Regions from separate parts of the Homo sapiens genome. Here region 1 is linked to region 2. Evidence: fine-mapped expression QTL. A gene starts in region 2. The other region holds a variant in brackets. All regions are shown on one strand. Distances are from middle to middle. Region 1 overlaps MLIP-IT1 (MLIP intronic transcript 1). Region 2 holds the start of MLIP (muscular LMNA interacting protein).

The links. PIP is the estimated chance that this variant, and not a neighbour inherited with it, causes the effect.
Region 1: its variant is fine-mapped to the expression of MLIP in sun-exposed skin (GTEx, PIP above 0.99). The same link has a PIP of 0.9 or more in esophagus mucosa and unexposed skin.

The regions. Positions count from the first base shown.
Region 1 is chr6:54,002,439-54,010,835 of GRCh38, reverse strand. It overlaps MLIP-IT1 (MLIP intronic transcript 1), which reads right to left. Exons shown (of 4, transcript NR_046832.1): 3 at 8,117-8,222; 4 at 3,684-3,865. Among named protein-coding and RNA genes, the nearest start is that of MLIP-IT1, 7.7 kb to the right of the region's middle. The variant C/T (reference allele first, on the strand shown) is at 3,832.
Region 2 is chr6:54,107,565-54,115,961 of GRCh38, reverse strand. It overlaps MLIP (muscular LMNA interacting protein), which reads right to left and starts at 4,519. Exons shown (of 14, transcript NM_001281747.2): 1 at 4,387-4,519. The coding sequence starts at 4,482.

The sequences.
Region 1 (8,397 bases), 110 kb after region 2:
AGTTCCCCCCAAAATATTTCTTTATAAGAATGTCTTAGCAATAGTGGGAATTTTGAGTCAAGTGTTGAAAGTTTTGCAACATATCCAACTATCTAATTTTTAGTGTACTGATGAAAATTCTTTAAGCTTCCCTAAGGACATAAGTGGTAACAGAGTAAAATGTTACTGAAAATTGAATTTATCTTCTATTATGTTGACTGGATTTTTTAAGTAAAATTAAAAGTCCTTCTGAAGTGAAATGTCCATTACTCCAGAGAAGGAAAGTCGGAATTATGCAATAGATGTCCATGACAAGGCTGAACAAACTCCACAGTCAGGCAGGACAATTGCCCTGCTTCCCAGCCACCAAAAAATGTCCAGAGAGGGCAGACTTCTGCTGAACCTTCCTCAGTTCCCACAAATTTTCTTCGCTAATTACTCTCAACAGAAGTGAGTCTGCGTTACCCCAAAGGCCACTACTTCAATGTCTAGCCTCTGTGCAAAGGGATCCAACTTTGGGCTATGGCCCATGTGGAAGTCCCATTTAAAGCATAGCCAGGGAAGAGACTCAGAATTTGAAAAGCAAATTATTGCTCATTTACTTGATTATCTGTGGAAAATATATCATCTCAGATTAGCTTTGTCATCCCACCCTGTAAATCATCCCACCTGCCTTCTATAGTGTATTTTTAAAAGAAGGAAGCTATCACAATTTATTTGCCTTTTGGGATCATTCACATTGTAACTCAGGGTTCCCTAGTAACTTGTAACTGTGGCACACTGAGTTTCTGCTGTTTCAAAAGGTTCCAGGAAGAAGCCCAGCTATAGCAAAACAAAAACCAGGTAAAACCAGAGGTGCCTGAGTTGGAGATGAAGTTTGGTGAACTCTCCCTATTACCATACTTAAAAACCCCACCTAGGGAGGAGCTTATTCACCATTTTCTATACCTGCAATATATGAAGAAGCATGATCAGGACTGTGCCTGCACTGCCTTTACCCTGCCTTTCATACAATGACTAAGCCAACCAGCCTAATGAAAGCCCTGCTCTCATCTTCCTTTGGAGAGACACACTGCTTTGGGAACTATCCCCAGTGTTCTCCTTACTTGTTGCAAGTAACAAAAATCCCCTTGGTAAATCCTCCTTGGTTGTGGTCATTGGGTTAACACCTGCCAAGCGACCAAAACCATCCATTGTGTGGGTCACACCACTACTCTCTTTCATGATTTGCACTAGTTGAGTTGATTGATGTTGGTGATTTCTAAATGAATGCTTATGCAAAAAACAATGTTATTTTAGGACATTATTCGATTATTTTCTATCCAGTTCAATAATTTGATAATCATGGGTCGAGTATGTCAACATCCCTGTGTGGACACTGACAGCTTTCAGGAGTTGAACGCACAGTCTACTGTCAAGAATTTAGTTAGAAATGAACAGAATTGTATACATCACAGCAGGCTGAATGTGCTAAGTGCTAAGTTAGGAATATAAATGATGTGCTTTAAGAGCCAAAGAAACAAAAGACGATTCTGTCTGGGGACATTGTTCATGATTTCACACAGATGATAGATTTGAGCTGGGCTATCCTAATCCTTGCTGCTAAAAGTGATCTTTGGACATCAACATTTACATCATGTGAGAGCTTGTTAAAAATTAAAAACGTGAATCCCACCCCAGACATACAGAGAAAGAATCTGCACTTTAATAAGGTCTACAGGCTAATCATATGGGCATTCAAGTTTCAGAAGCACTGATTTATCTACTTTTAGAATGGCTAGAGATATAGAAAGAAGGACATGTCTGCGTACACAAAAATAATGAAAGCCAGTAGAAATAGAGGATTAATAGAGTATCTACAGAGGATTTACGTCTGTCACCTAACAGTAATGGGAAAAAAACACCACAACCACTTATTATGACCCAGTAACTCTGCTAAATGATTGATTATGCTATCTCATTTTGTGCTCTCAACAATCCCTTGAGCTAGCTGCATCATTTCACAGATGAGAAAGCCAACACTAGCAAGGGTTAAGTAATTTTCCAAGTCTACATAGAGAGAAAAGAGTAGATAGAGCCAGGATTCAAAACTAATATTTACTTCCAAACTAGACCTCTCAGCCACTACCTACTCTAAGCCTTGGATTTTCTCCACCAGGAACAAATCCCAGTCCTTATCAACACTCCCCTAGAGAAAAATAAGAGGGCCTGAAGCCCACAGGTAGAGCATCCCAGGCAGCCCACACTCTATTCCTCCTTCCATCCTTCTTTCTTTCTTTCTTAAACTTCCACATCTGTTGGAATAAGAAGGGAAGACTGACAATACTGTTTTGGTGACTAAGGTAATTATTTTTTCATTAAAAATAGAACTTTTGGGAGACTCTCTTGGGCAACCCCCTTTCTCAGCATGAGGCAGCTTCCTCTCCCTTTTTTTTTTTTTTTTGTCTATTAAACTTCCCGCTCCAAAACCCACCCCCAATAAAATAAAATAAAATAAATGTTTTATTTTATTACCAACTAAATTTATATATACCACAGAAATTTTGGAAAACACAAAGAGGTACAAACAGAAAATTTTAAATTATCTGTAAAACCACAACTCAAATATACCACAGTTAACATTAAGATATATTTCCAGCCGGGCGTGGTGGCTTATGCCTGTAATGCCAGCATTTTGGGAGGCCGAGGCGGGCGGATCATGAGGTCAGGAGATCAAGACCCTCCTGGCCAACATGGTGAAACCCTGTCTCTACTAAAAATACAAAAATTAGCTGGGCATGGTGGTGTGCACCTGTAGTCCCAGCTACTCAGGAGGCTGAGGCAGGAGAATCGCTTGAACCCGGGAGGCAGAGGTTTCAGTGAGCCAAGATCACGCCACTGCACTCCAGCCTGGTGACAGGGCAAGATTCCATTTCAAAAAAAAAAAAGATATATTTCCTGCCAGGCTTTTTTATATATTTTAATACTTTATATAATTAGTAGTGTACTGTCCATCCTGTTTTGTGACTTTTTTATTAAACAACACATTATGAACAATTTCCTTGTCATTAATGCTTTTATTCATGAGTATTCCTAAAGGTTAGATGGTGGCAATATAATTTTTGTCTGGCCTCGCCAAGAGTCAGGGAACAGAGGCTAGACAATGGCACAAGTGCAGAGAACAGGCTGGACACAACCCACCTTAATGATTGGTTCTTCCCTTTATCATTTTAAAATTGATATTGGTCACATTAAGTTTGTTTACAATAACAAATAACTGCATATTATAGGCAAATAAAATTATCAAATTTCCCAAAAGTAAGAAAAACAAAATCAGTGAAGCACTGTAATTCTACGTCCATGAATAATCTATGCTTCTTACTTGCTATAAATGGTGTGTCAGCAGGAGCTCTTGATAAAATATCTATTGTTTTTTAAAAATACATCAATCATTATGTACACTATAATATTCTAGTAGTAATACATGCTCACTAGAGATATTTCCAAAAACACCCAAAAGTAAAGCCATCTTATATAGTAATACTTGATTGCAGGAACAGAAACTGACTTGAGAATAAATAATAATAACACTGTATATTATAAGCCAGGCTTCATGAAGGCTACAACCAGAAACTGGAAAGTCATCATTAACCAGTTCCTCTGTTAGATCTCATGAACTCTTGTCTTTTTCTTTCTTTGTATATCTGCTTTTGTCTTATTTTCCTGAAAATCTGCTTTCTTTGTGCAAGTGGGAGAAGATGCCCGCACCTCCAGTCCAAAATGTTCATGTCTCTCAATCCAAGGCATGCATACAAACTGACTTGTTTTCTCTGAATTTCCAAGTCTAATTCCCAGAAGAAAAGATCCAGTTTG[C/T]CCACCATGAGTCAGGTGTCCATCATGATCCAATCTGCAACGGGTAGTGGGAGGTTAGAAGTGGTGGTAGGTGAGGAAGGGAGGAGGAGACCGGGCAGAGTCACATATTCTCAACACAAGGGAGTTGAGGAGGCATCATTAAAAGGGTCTACTAAAAACTGGGAAAACAAAAACAAACCAAAAATACAACTAAAAATGTTAATATTTTCCTGGATTTTATCCCAATCTGTTTTCTATTCTTACATTTAATAATATTTCCTTCTAGGCTTTTCTATATATAGTATATTTTAGTTGTGATAATGATGTATAAACTTTATACCTTAATATAAGAATTCTTCATATTACTGTAAAGTCTTGAAAAATATTTTAAATCAGCAAAGCACCAATTAGTCAATGTGCAATATTTTGTAACCATTCCCATTTCATTGGAAACTCAAATTATTTCCCATGATTTCAAATAAATCTGAGATCACCACCTTTGTGTACAGAAAGCTATTTTTCTATTTTGAATTACTTCATTAAAACTGACTTCCAGATGCTGAATTTTACCAGAGTAAAGATAACGAAAATTGTCCAAGTTCTTGATAGATACTGCTAAATTTCTTTCCGAAAGGGTTGCATGAATGTGTCTTTCACATATCCTCATCAGCATAAGACATTATTGTATTTAAAAATTTCCCATAGTTAACAATAATTTATTGTTGAAATAACTGAAAGAGTAGAATTGGAATGTTCTTAACACAAAGAAATAATAAACGTTTAAGGTGTTGGATATTGCAATTACCCTGATTTGATCATTACACAGTGTATGTTTGTATCAAAATATCACATGTACCCCATAAATAGTAAATATGTGCAACTATTATGTATCCATAAAAATTAAAGATCATCTTTTAAATTGCTATACTGGAAATTTAAGATAGAAGTAACATTTACTGGCTTTTTTTTTTTGAGACAGAGTCTCACTCTGTCACCAGGCTGGAGTGCAATGGTGCAATCTTGGCTCACTGCAAGTTCTGCCTCCTGGGCTTAAGAAATTCTCATGCCTCAGCCTCCAGAGTAGCTGGGATTACAAGTGTGTGCCCCCACACCTGGCTAATTTTTGTACTTTTAGTAGAGATGGGGTTTCGCCATGTTTGCCAGGCTGGTCTCAAACTTCTGGCCTCAGTGATCCACCCGCCTCAGCCTCCTAAAGTGCTAGGATTACAGGTATGAGACACGGTGCCAGACTTCAATGGCATTGTTAAAGCAACATGAGTATAAACATGGTTTCTTCTATGTAACTGTTGAGGCTTAATCACCACACATTGGCCAATTATCATTAAACCTCCTTTAGCAGCCAGGACTAAACGCACCATTCTTCCTTGGTACCACCCTTCATTCATCCGACAAACATTAGTTGACCACCTGTTAGCTGCCAAGCACTGTTTGAAACTTAGAAATAGAAATATATAGATATATGGTCCCTGTTCCTAAAGGTACTGTTACATGAAGGATGGCAGCCCTCATGGAAATAGACACAATAGAGAGGAATCACTGCATCCCACTCAGGGCTTCCCTGCATAGCCCTGGAACTCCCTCAGTGATACACACCCGACAGGTCCTCAGGTCAGTTCTGGTCCTTCAGAAAGTTCCAAGGAATGAGGGAGGGTAGCACTCTGAACACATTTCAACCACAAATCCCAGGCTTACCTAGCACTTCGCTTTTCCTGCTTAAATGAAAAAAGAATGGCTAAAAATGTGTTATAAGAATGGATGAGGCTGGGCGCAGTGGCTCATGCTTGTAATCCCAGCACTTTGGGAGATGGAGACAGAGGTGGGCGGATCAATTGAGGTCAGGAGTTCAAGACCACTGGCCAACATGGTGAAACCCCGCCTCTACTAAAAATACAAAATAACAGCCAGGTGTGTGTGGTGGGCACCTGTAATCCCAGCTACTTGGGAGGCTGAGGCAGGAGACTCGCTTGAACCCAGGAGGCAGAGGTTGCAGTGAACCAAGATCATGCCACTGCACTCCAGCCTGGGTGACAGAGTGAGACTCTGTCACAAAAAAAAAAAAAAAAAAAAGAATGGATGAGACGTTCCTTTGGAATTTATTCAAACATATCAAAGTTTTTTAAACCCAGCTATAACATCTGGAGCAGACAAAATCTACACTCAGTAGTAGATTCTTATGATCTCTCTTTTTCTCTCTCTCTCTCTCGCACCCTCCTTCCCTCCCTCTCACTGACTAGTTTATTAATATAAATGTTGCTCCCAATTTGAGAAGTTCATTGAGGCATAATTTAGAATTAATAAGCTCAGGCAATAGTATACAATTAATGTACTTCCCAAGTTAGGCAGGAGTTTAATGTCACCTCATAAAACCAAGTCTTTGTAATTATCGAAGTGCCAGCTGTGAACTGATCAGGAACACAATAGGAATTTTGTTAATTATCATTACCCAGAGGAAAATAATTAGTTTCTTTGTAGGGAGAATAAAAACAAATGTTGCTATTTTCATTTTAATTTCAACCACTGAAGTTGATAAAACTCAGAATTGGTCTACCAGTTTTGGTCCTCCTATTTCTAAATATTACAAACTCATTAATGCATTAGCAGATTGCATGTTAATCTTCATGTCCATAAATTAATTGGAACACTAGTCACTGGATAATTGGTACATTGTTTTTAGGGGGCATAAAATAACCGCCAAACCCCAAGGTAAAAAGGGCGACTGAAACACCTTTGGAGAGAATGATATAATCTAGCTTTCTTAAGACTTCAAAGCTTCATCAAAGTCTTCTTTAACCCATTATCTTTTCCTTTAAGCATGGCAAATTGACTTTCCTTCTCCCCTACACCTTGCAGATAAATCTCAAAATCATCAGATCAGAGTAACAGGGAGTATTTATTGGCCTAACTGAAGAACTTGGGTCCAATTGCAGCCTTCTCTTCTCTAGAGCCATCAGGCATGAGGACCCACTGTCCACTTCGGTTAGAAACCACACTGTCCATAGGGAATGCTATGTTTTGTTTGGAACACAGTATGGTACTTCTGAAATATTGAAGATAGTGCTAGGCCATTTGGGTAGCTCAAAAATGCAATAATGGCTGGGCACAGTGGCTCACACCCTTAATCTCAGTACTTTGGGAGGCTGAGGCAGGAGGATCTCTTGAGCTCAGGAGTTCAAGATGAGCCTGGGCAACATAGCAAGACCCTGTCTCTACAAAAAAAAAAAAAATTAAAAAATTAAAAAAAAAAAACTAACCAGGCATGATGGTGTGCATCTATAGTCCTGGCTACCTGGGAGGTGGAAGTAGGAATATCCCTTGAGCCCAAGGTGTCAGGGCTGCAATGAGCTATGACTGCACCACTGCAATCCAGCCTATGTGACACAGTGAGACTCTGTCTCTAAAAAAGAAAAACAAGCTAAAAGATGTTGAATGATTTATTGTTTTTAGATTTTTGGAGCTTTCAGGAAGCCTACAGATTACAAAGTGCAAGCAGACACAAGCATTAAAAAACAAGAATGTCAGGAATTCTGACCCTAGGGGCAGATAAGCAGTCACATCCTTTGCCCTAGGATGTAGAACTCAAGCCTAAACCTACAAATCTTGATTTTACAAATCCATCTCATGTCATTTTCATTCCATTAATTAAAGACATTTATGTGTCACTAAACGTCTTTCAACAGATCAGCTTTGCCGCATAGGTCCAAGTAAGAGCTTGGAAGAGAAAAGTGTTTGAGTCCAACGTCTATATTTAAGGCTTTTGGCATTTACTTACATTCTTTGGGCCTCAGTTTCCTATCAGAAAAATGCAGATAAGAATAGCAACTTTGCCACAGTACTGTTTAAGGGATGAAGTGCAAAAAATTATCACTATACATCAGTATTCTCTTTGTGGAAACTGCTATTCCTCTAATTACTCTATGTTATCAGTAGATGAACAAACCTGAACAACAAACCAATAGTCAAGTGTCCATGGAGAGAAATTATTGTTGCAATTGAGTGAAACAAGTTGGTGGTGTGATATATGTAATGACTTGCATCACTGCCATTGTGCTGCATACTAATTAGTTATAAATAATAAGCCATAGATATAAATGTCTATAATTAGTGTTGCTTTTACAGGAAAGTTCAATTTTTCATTTTTCTTTTCTCATTTTGTCCATTCTCCATATCTGTAATCAGCATCAACATCAGCAATTTTTCAAAGTACAGCTTCACTATAATCACTCACAGGAACAATCACCCACATTAAAAGATAAAGCCCCTTGCCCTTGAACCAAGATGTTCTTACTTCAATGCTAGGTGTTTCAATTCATGGTTCAACCAGGAACCTTCTCCACTGGGATTTGCAATACTAGAGGCAGTAAAACATCTGGACCATGAGGTCACTTCTTCTCCTTGGAAGGCAATGGAGGATTGTTCACAGCATAAAGAAAAAGAGGAAGCAAGTCAACATCTGTGGAGGCACTCACAGGTATTTGGCACTGCTAGATGCTTTTCAATTTTGTATCTACATCTCCTACCACCCTCATAAGATAACTATGACATTATCCCCCTCTTACATGTGAGTAA
Region 2 (8,397 bases):
TCTTACATATCTGTATCTTATTTTCAAAATACTCCCTTCACTTTCTAGTTATAACTAAAACATGGTTCTCTCTGAAGGACTCTATTTCAATGATAAATGTTTTCTCTCACACTCCTGCACCAATGGGCCTGGAAGTAAAATAGGTGTCCTCCTTGCTTATCTTTACTGCTTCCAGACTATTCTTCTCTCTTGTCTAAAAACTTCCAGCTTTGAATCTCATGTCATCAGTCTATACCCTTCACAATCTCTCTTAGCTGCAGTCATCTTTCCACACCCGTATTAAATGCTTCTTTCCTTAAAGATTCAGTTTCTGGTTCAATGCCACGCTTCTTAACCCAATGCTTTGTATAATACCCAGTATTATATCTCAATGGGTATTTTTTATAATATTGTATTTCCTTGACCTCTATTCTTCCTTGCCCCTCACATCCCTAGCCTTGCCCAATAGCTGCAAACCTTCCGTAATTTGTTTCTTCATTCTCTGACCATCACTTTTTATCGCTCCATACTATCCCCCTAGTAGTCCAACTCTAACATTTTTTAACTTCACCATGATTTAAATCTACTGATTCTTCCACAATTATTTTCCTACATTTGTCTTCTTAACCAGCTTCAAAAACCAAGTTGACCACAGTTACTCTTTTGGATACCCCTCAAATCCCTTGTCCTCCTTTATATCATCATCCTGTTTGAGTACATTACAGCCCTCACTAAGTCTAATCCCCTACCTACTCTATTTCTGAACCAGGAAGGTAAACATGCCTGGGGGAAACCACACAACCACACCTACTGATCTCACTTCATATTTACCACTCTGAGCCTCAAGAAGGCTTTTCAATGCTGCCCAACAATCGTACTATACTTCCATAGCCCATTCACTCTTCCACTGGCCTAGAAAACTCTTTCACACTTTTTCCCCTTTCTTCAAACCTCTAACATCTCTCCCACATTCTCACTTGGAGCTGATGACTTTGTTTCCTATTTCGTTAAGGTAACGGAAGCAATCAGAAAAGAATTTTCAAGGCCCCCAACACCACATTTATTCACACATCTGCATCTCTGCCCTTTTTTATGGCCTTCAGTCCTACTACTATGCTCCTAGTAAAACCAACCCTCACTGTAATACTTTGCCTTCTACTTACTTTCATTTATTCAATGAGGTATTATTAAATGCCTACTAAATGCTAGGCACTATTCTAGGGGTTGGTGCCATAACAGTGAACAAAAATCCCTACCCTCATGGAGTTTATATTCTAGTGGAGGGAAACAGACAGTAGACAAATAAATAAACAACATATGTAGTACTATTTTCATAAATGCTATGAAGACTTGCTATAAGTCTATTGCAATAACCCATAGGAGAAAAACTGGTGAGTTGAATGTAGTTTGCTGCAGTAATAGTGGTAAGAACTGTTAAGATTCTGGCTACATTTTAAAGACAAAACTTAAAATTTGTTGAAAAATTGGAAGTGGAATATGAGAGATACACAAAAATCAAGATGGGTAGACAAATTTTGAACTGAATAACTGCAAGAAATGAGATATTATTCACTGAAATGGGGAAGACAATAGTTGAAGCTGGTTTGAGAATAACGATCAAATTTTGTGTGCCCAATATACAACCAAGTGGAAATGTGAGTATGAGTCAAGTTTACAGGAAATTCTGTGCTGGGGATAAAATTACTAGGGTTGTTAACCCATAGATGATATTTAAAACCAGGAGACTAGATGAGATCAATAAAGATGTAAACACAAATAGAAAAATAAGAGGCTTAAGGCCAAACCCTACAGACTCTAACATTGAGTGATCCACCAGCTGAGGAAGAACTAGCCAAGGTGGCCTGGGCGTTTTAAGGAAGATTTTAAAAGGCTGAAACATCACTGACAGTAGTCAGAAAGAGGGCTGACCAGAAACAAAATTTCTCACAGTCTACACTGAGGAACCAGTCCAAATATAAATCCAGGAACAGTGAGGCAATTTGCTTGGCTGTTCGATAGTCTCTCAAGGAATGCTTTGCTGGTTTTGGCAGGATGTGGCAAGTATAAGGAAATTAAGGGTACTGGTGAGAGTAGAGCAAATGATTGACCATGGAGTTCAGTTTGTATAGGTAAGGAGGAAGAACCCTCAAGTTGAAGGAACTAGAGGTCTCTGTGCTCAGGAAACAGAGTTGATACTATGATGACTGTTTGAGAGAATGGATGGGGTCATAATATGATATGAGAGTTTATTAATTTAATAATTAGAAGTATGATAATTCCAGATGATTCTAAATTCCAGGCTTTGGCATTAAGACTGAGTATATGAAAGGAAGGGCACTGAGCTTGTGAAGATCAAGGAACTGTGAGACAAGAATATTGACAGGGTTTTAAAAACTTTTAATTTTCAATATTCTTTTCGCCTTTAAAGATATGTGTCATTATTTCCTCATTGTATCCATGTCAAAATACCTTATCATCAAAAAGTAATAAATCAGTGCTTTATATTGTAGGAAGGATCCCTTGTGAGATTTAAGGAGCCCACTTATCTATCAACAATACGTAATACAACAGGCCTTCTAGATGTATTATCTTCTAGGGCTGTTTCATCACATAACTAATCTCATCAATATCATGATAGAAAGGAGAGTGGTTTTGGCAAGGAAATTACTGAAGTAGTTCAAATAATCCATCCCATAATTTCATTTGAGTAAGAAATAAAGATAATCCTTTAGGAGTAAAGAGGTGAAATTGCAACTTTGTCCCCAGGTTCTGTAACTAGGCCTTCCCTTATCTTTCCATGTCATGACTATAGGTCTATCTTATGTTCCATCCAAATAAAATTTAAAAAATAATATATGAAAGTCTTCATTATAAGCACCCCATGGTTACAAAATACATATAACCATTATAAGCAGTAAGTAGCTTTACCTTCTAAAGCATATATAATGATGAAAATTTATTTCTTCAAACACCTTGCACAATTTGTATAATTCAATGCTACTTAAGTATCTAAGATACAAATACAGCTCCACAACTGGTATGTCACATGCTATGAACTTTTTAAAAGTTGACAGCTATAACTTTCAGTGAATAAAGTAGAAACAAAGTATGAATGAAAACTGATGCTTCAATGAATAAGGTATGCTTTTACAACGGTACTGCCTAAAAAATTTCTAAACATAACCACATCCTGACAATAAAGGCAACTGAAAAGAAGAAAACCTATTTCTTTCTAATTTATTGTTATATTTTCCTAAAGAAACATCCATATCCTACATAAAATTTTCTCACCAGTGTAAGGAAACAATTTTTTTTTATTTTAGTTGAACCAGTACATGATGTGATTCCAGAAAACACAGAAACAGGAAATCTAATAAAACTAAAGACTTATTCATCTTCCTGAGTTACTGTTGGAGAATAACAAGATCAGACATAAATTCCTGTCCACATACATATCTTCAGAAGAATAATCACAAAAAGGGCAATCATTTGGTATTCGCTTTTAAGCTAACAGTACAATATTAGCTCTTTTCACCACCTTTACCTAGCATCCTTAACTTACCAAGGATCTAATACTCATTCACAAGGAATTTCAGTTGGAAAAGAATTTGAAATTACACCAACTATGCAATGCAACATTCAGATAAAGAGCCACATATTAGCCAGTAGACTATTTAATCCCTTGTTTAGGAGAGAACAAAAAAATATTTGCTGTTTACTGCATACTGTGGCTAAGTTCCAATGTAGCCTAAGAATGAATTGCTATGGTGATGAAAAACCATTTTCCACACAAAGCAGCAACAGATGCATGTTAACAGCATTGCACTTGTTAATTGCCAATTAACACTTTCAGTTGTCAATGTTATTTAAATATCTTAGTTTCTATCCTTGGGAAACTAATTTAGTCATAGAAATATGAGATAAAAGGATTAAAATCTTTTTCTAAATACACTTTGAAATGCTCAAAATCTCTAAGAACGTCATCTTCTCACCGGATAGCCTAATAATTTGAGAAACTGTTTTCCCGCATGCCACGCAGGCTAACAGCTCCTTTGCTCAGTTTTGGGCTGTAATGCCTTCCTTTCTTATATTTCCCTAAAAGTTCTCTTCCTTCAGATGTTGACACCCACACTCGCAGATGGCCTCTAGCCTCCTGTTAAGGCATTACAGGGTATCTTACATTATCACTGTGCCAAGGGCAATCCTGAGCATTTTCTTTGCCCAATGAGCAGTTTTGTCTTTATCAGCTCACCCTTTTCTCTAAGTGAAGATAGCATTTCATTTCAATATACATACAAATTTATCTTCACTGGGCAGCTCTCCCTCACATCCTTGCAGCAAATACCACCAGCACCGTACACTGCTTTTAAAAGTTACTGAAAGCATTAAGCAAAGACTTCCTTTTACCTGGGGTGTGGTCTGAATGCTCCCTGATAAGATGCACGAGGTCATTTGGAAGTAATTGTTCCCGCAGTCACTCAGAAGCCCCTGTTCTGAAAGCATTGATTCATCACATAAGGGAGCGAGCAAACCAATGACTGAGGTGGGAAGGGAGCCTCATACTAAAACAACACACACACACTCACGCAGAAAGAAGAAATTCTAAAAAGAGGTAAAGCAGAGTCATTCCAAAATTGAGGAATTGTGTCAGCTCCGAAGAGTAGATTTCTGTTTTGACAATTTTTAGATTTGGAACATTATGAGAGGTCATACTAACTGCTGAAATGGAATCAGTAGAAGTGAAAAAAAGAAAAAGAAAAAGAAAAAAAGCCACTGATATGTGTTTTCCCTCTTTTCTTTTCATGCATGTATTCCAATTATATATTCTGTGAAAAGAAGAGAAAAGCCAGATTGTGCAGCAATGAGAAGCTGATTGAAGGGCGCTAGCACCTGCCAATCTCAATAATCAGTTGGTCATGCTCATAGAGAACATTTAGAGGTATAAATACATGCAAACACTGTGTCCAAATAAAGAACTAGAAAACACACAGTTATTTCAAAATATCAGTAACTTTATCCTTAGTATATAAATTGTAAGCAACAATACAGGAGCATCTGTAGTGACTGAAGTTATGTTATTAACAAAATCACCTCTAAAATAAAGCTTGGAATCAAATCCTTGTCAAAACAGAATTTCATTCCAAGGTTCCTGGAAGACAGTGAGAATCCTGACTGCAGACAAACCTTAAAACTTCATATGTGAAATTGATTGGAGTCTTCAGCTTTCAGTACTTCTATTTTCTAAGTATTGATTTTTCTCCAAATCTGTAATATCTACATTTGTGCTTTGGCAGTGAAAAGTGTTGTATCCAAAGGACTAGATATAGATCAAAGGCTATGGGAAGGAATTACTATTTTAGAAACCTAGATTATGCCTCTTCACATTTTCGATGTTATCAAAAGCCTGAGATTATGGAAACATAATGAGTAAAATAATTGCTATAAGTGATTCTATTAGCACAGTGGGAGGAACTATTCCAAACAACACAGACCTAGAATATGATCTAAATTTCTGAATATAAGTGCCGTGTTATAAAAAAAACTATGAGCCTTCTTCTATTTTACACATATTTATGGATACTCAAAAGAGAATATAAGTGCCTCTTGCCCTCAAAAAGCTAATGGTTTGAGAATATAAAACAGGTAAACAAATAACAAAGATACAAAGTGAAAAAAGAAAACAAGAAAAAGCCCTATACTGGCCAGGCGCCGTGGCTCATGCCTGTAATCCCAGCACTTTGGGAGGCCGAGGCGGGCGGACCACAAGGTCAGGAGATCGAGACCATTCTGGCTTATATGGTGAAACCCTGTCTCTACTAAAAAATACAAAAAATTAGCCGGGCGTTGTGGCGGGCAGCTGTAGTCCCAGCTAATCGGGAGGCTGAGGCAGGAGAATGGCATGAATCCGGGAGGCGGAGCTTGCAGTGAGCCAATATCGCGCCACTGCACTACAGCCTGGGCGACACAGCGAGACTCCGTCAAAAAAAAAAAGAAAAAGAAAAAACGAAAGGAAGGAAGGAAGGAAGGAAGGAAGGAAGGAAGGAAGGAAGGAAGGAAGAAAGAAAGAAAGAAAAAGAAAGAAAGAAAAGAAAGCCCTATACTGCAGTTCTTCTTAAACTACTGCACACATAAATCCCCTGGGGAGCTTGTTAAAATGCACTTTCTAAGTGTGGAGATCTGAGATGTGGCCTCAGATTCTGCATTTCCAAGAAGCTCCTAGTAGATGCCCTGGGAGCCACACCCCAGATCTGCTGCTGGTGTGTTACACTTTGAGTAGCAAAGACAGAGGAATTTCAGAGAACGATGTTACAGCCACCTGGAGGGCAGTAATTCAAGATGGTGGCATTTGGGCTGCACTTAGAAGAACGGGGAAAGGGAAACTATGAAGGTGGGATGGAATAGCAAGTATTTCAAGCAAAGAGAGAGGGCTGGATTGAAGGCACCTATCGGGACAGCAAGAGCAGTAAGTCATAAAGCACAGGACCCTGGAGCCACATCATCCACTGGCTGTGGGCCCTCAGACAAGTTACTGAACTTTTTAAAGGCTCAGTCCTCTCACCTGTGAAATGTGGATGAGAATAGCTCTCATTTCACAGAGTTCTTGTGAGGATTACAATTAAATTCAGCATGTAAGATTTCCACAGATTCTTAGCTCTGTGCCAGGCAGATTCTTAATACACGTTACTCCTGTGGGTATTGTTGTTTTCTAGTTTTATAAATAACATAAATGAGAATAAAGGCAAGTAAGACAAAAAAAAGTAGGTTAAATGTAGGTCATCAAAGATCTTGAATTAAGATGTTTTAGCTTTATTCAGTGAAGAACAGAAATGGAAATATTCATATATATATGAATATATATGTATGTAAATATATATGTATTTATTGATACTACCCTTTGGTGTTTTGATTTATATATATAAAGACATATATATATATGAAGACATAAAATTATATATATAAATCAAAACACCAAAGGGTAGTATCAATACATCTTAGAGATCACTCTTATCGCAAAGTTCTAGTGTGGTTCTCCAAGAAGAAGTGACAGTCCAGATTTTTGTCAGTGGTCAATCAGTTTATTCCAGGTGGATTCAAACGCTATGAAACTCTTCTTCTATGTCTCATTCTGTCCTTTCCTCTCTGATCTTTTCTTTCTCTCATTCTCTCCCACAAACAGAAAGCAATATTTATGCAAGTTGGCATAATCAAATTTAGAAGAGAAAATACTTCAGCCCCTACTCTTCCCTGCTCAGATTCTTTCTTGAGTCATTTTACAACATGAAAACCAATTTATTATTTTGACATTTTTCTCTGTGTCTTATTGGTAACTTTCCTCTAACCATTTTCTTTCCCTTGTTTTATTAACTAATAATTGCTGTTATAGACTATTTCTTATAATACTAGAAGTCATAATTTTCACTTAAAAACACATAAATGGTCATGCATTATAACAGCATGCTTCAGCCATCTGGATAGTAACTACATATAGCTTCAAAGAGCACATGTATTTTGGATAATTTCTATAGAAACCATTCTGTATTTAAATAGAAAGTGATGGCACCTGGTCAAAAAATGGGTCCTAGTCTTGGATGACAAAAGAGCATATAAATTACCTGAGTGGAGAGGAGAAGAGAATCTATCCTCTAATTACAACAACTTTTCTATAGACAAAAAGTCATCTATGGTCTGCCCAAGACCCTTAAGCATTTTATAATCACAAACTTTTAATGATCTCTCTCCCACTAACAAACACAAACTGCTCTGTTGAATAATCTTTTTTTTGTTTTCACAGGAAAACAAAGTTTGTCAAAGCTTGCAATAGATGAATACAATCCAAAATTCTCTTTAAAATCTGGCATTATTGATGATAGCTGAAGCAGGCATCCGTCACCCTTATTACTAAACGGATATTACTGCAATACCTTTCAGCTGAAAGACTCTTAAGATATTGCTTTTAAAAAAATAATACAGAACAAATAATCCTCTTCCTGACATGGGAAACAAATTTGAGAAAAAAGAAATAGATTAGTCCACAAGTTTGCCAAGAAACATGTAAGTGATTAAACAGATCCAGCTGCCAAGGCTATTCAGACATCCATTTGTCTGTTTTTATGCCTCAGGCTTGATAACAGAAGGTACCAGAAGTCCCATTTATTTATCTTAATAAACATCTATTGAGTGCCAGTCACGATTCTAAGCTCTGAAGACATAAAATAATAAAGGCTTGGAACCTGTTCTCAGCATGGCTTATAGTCTCATTAAAGAGACACCTTCACTCGTGACGGGAGCAGTGAATGAAGTCAGAGGAGGATGACAAGTCACGTGCTGAACACAGACTGCATGGGCAATGCATGTCAGGTTGTTTTCGGGGAGATTTCACTCTTAGCTCCTGCACTCCTAGGTCCTATTTCTGGCAAA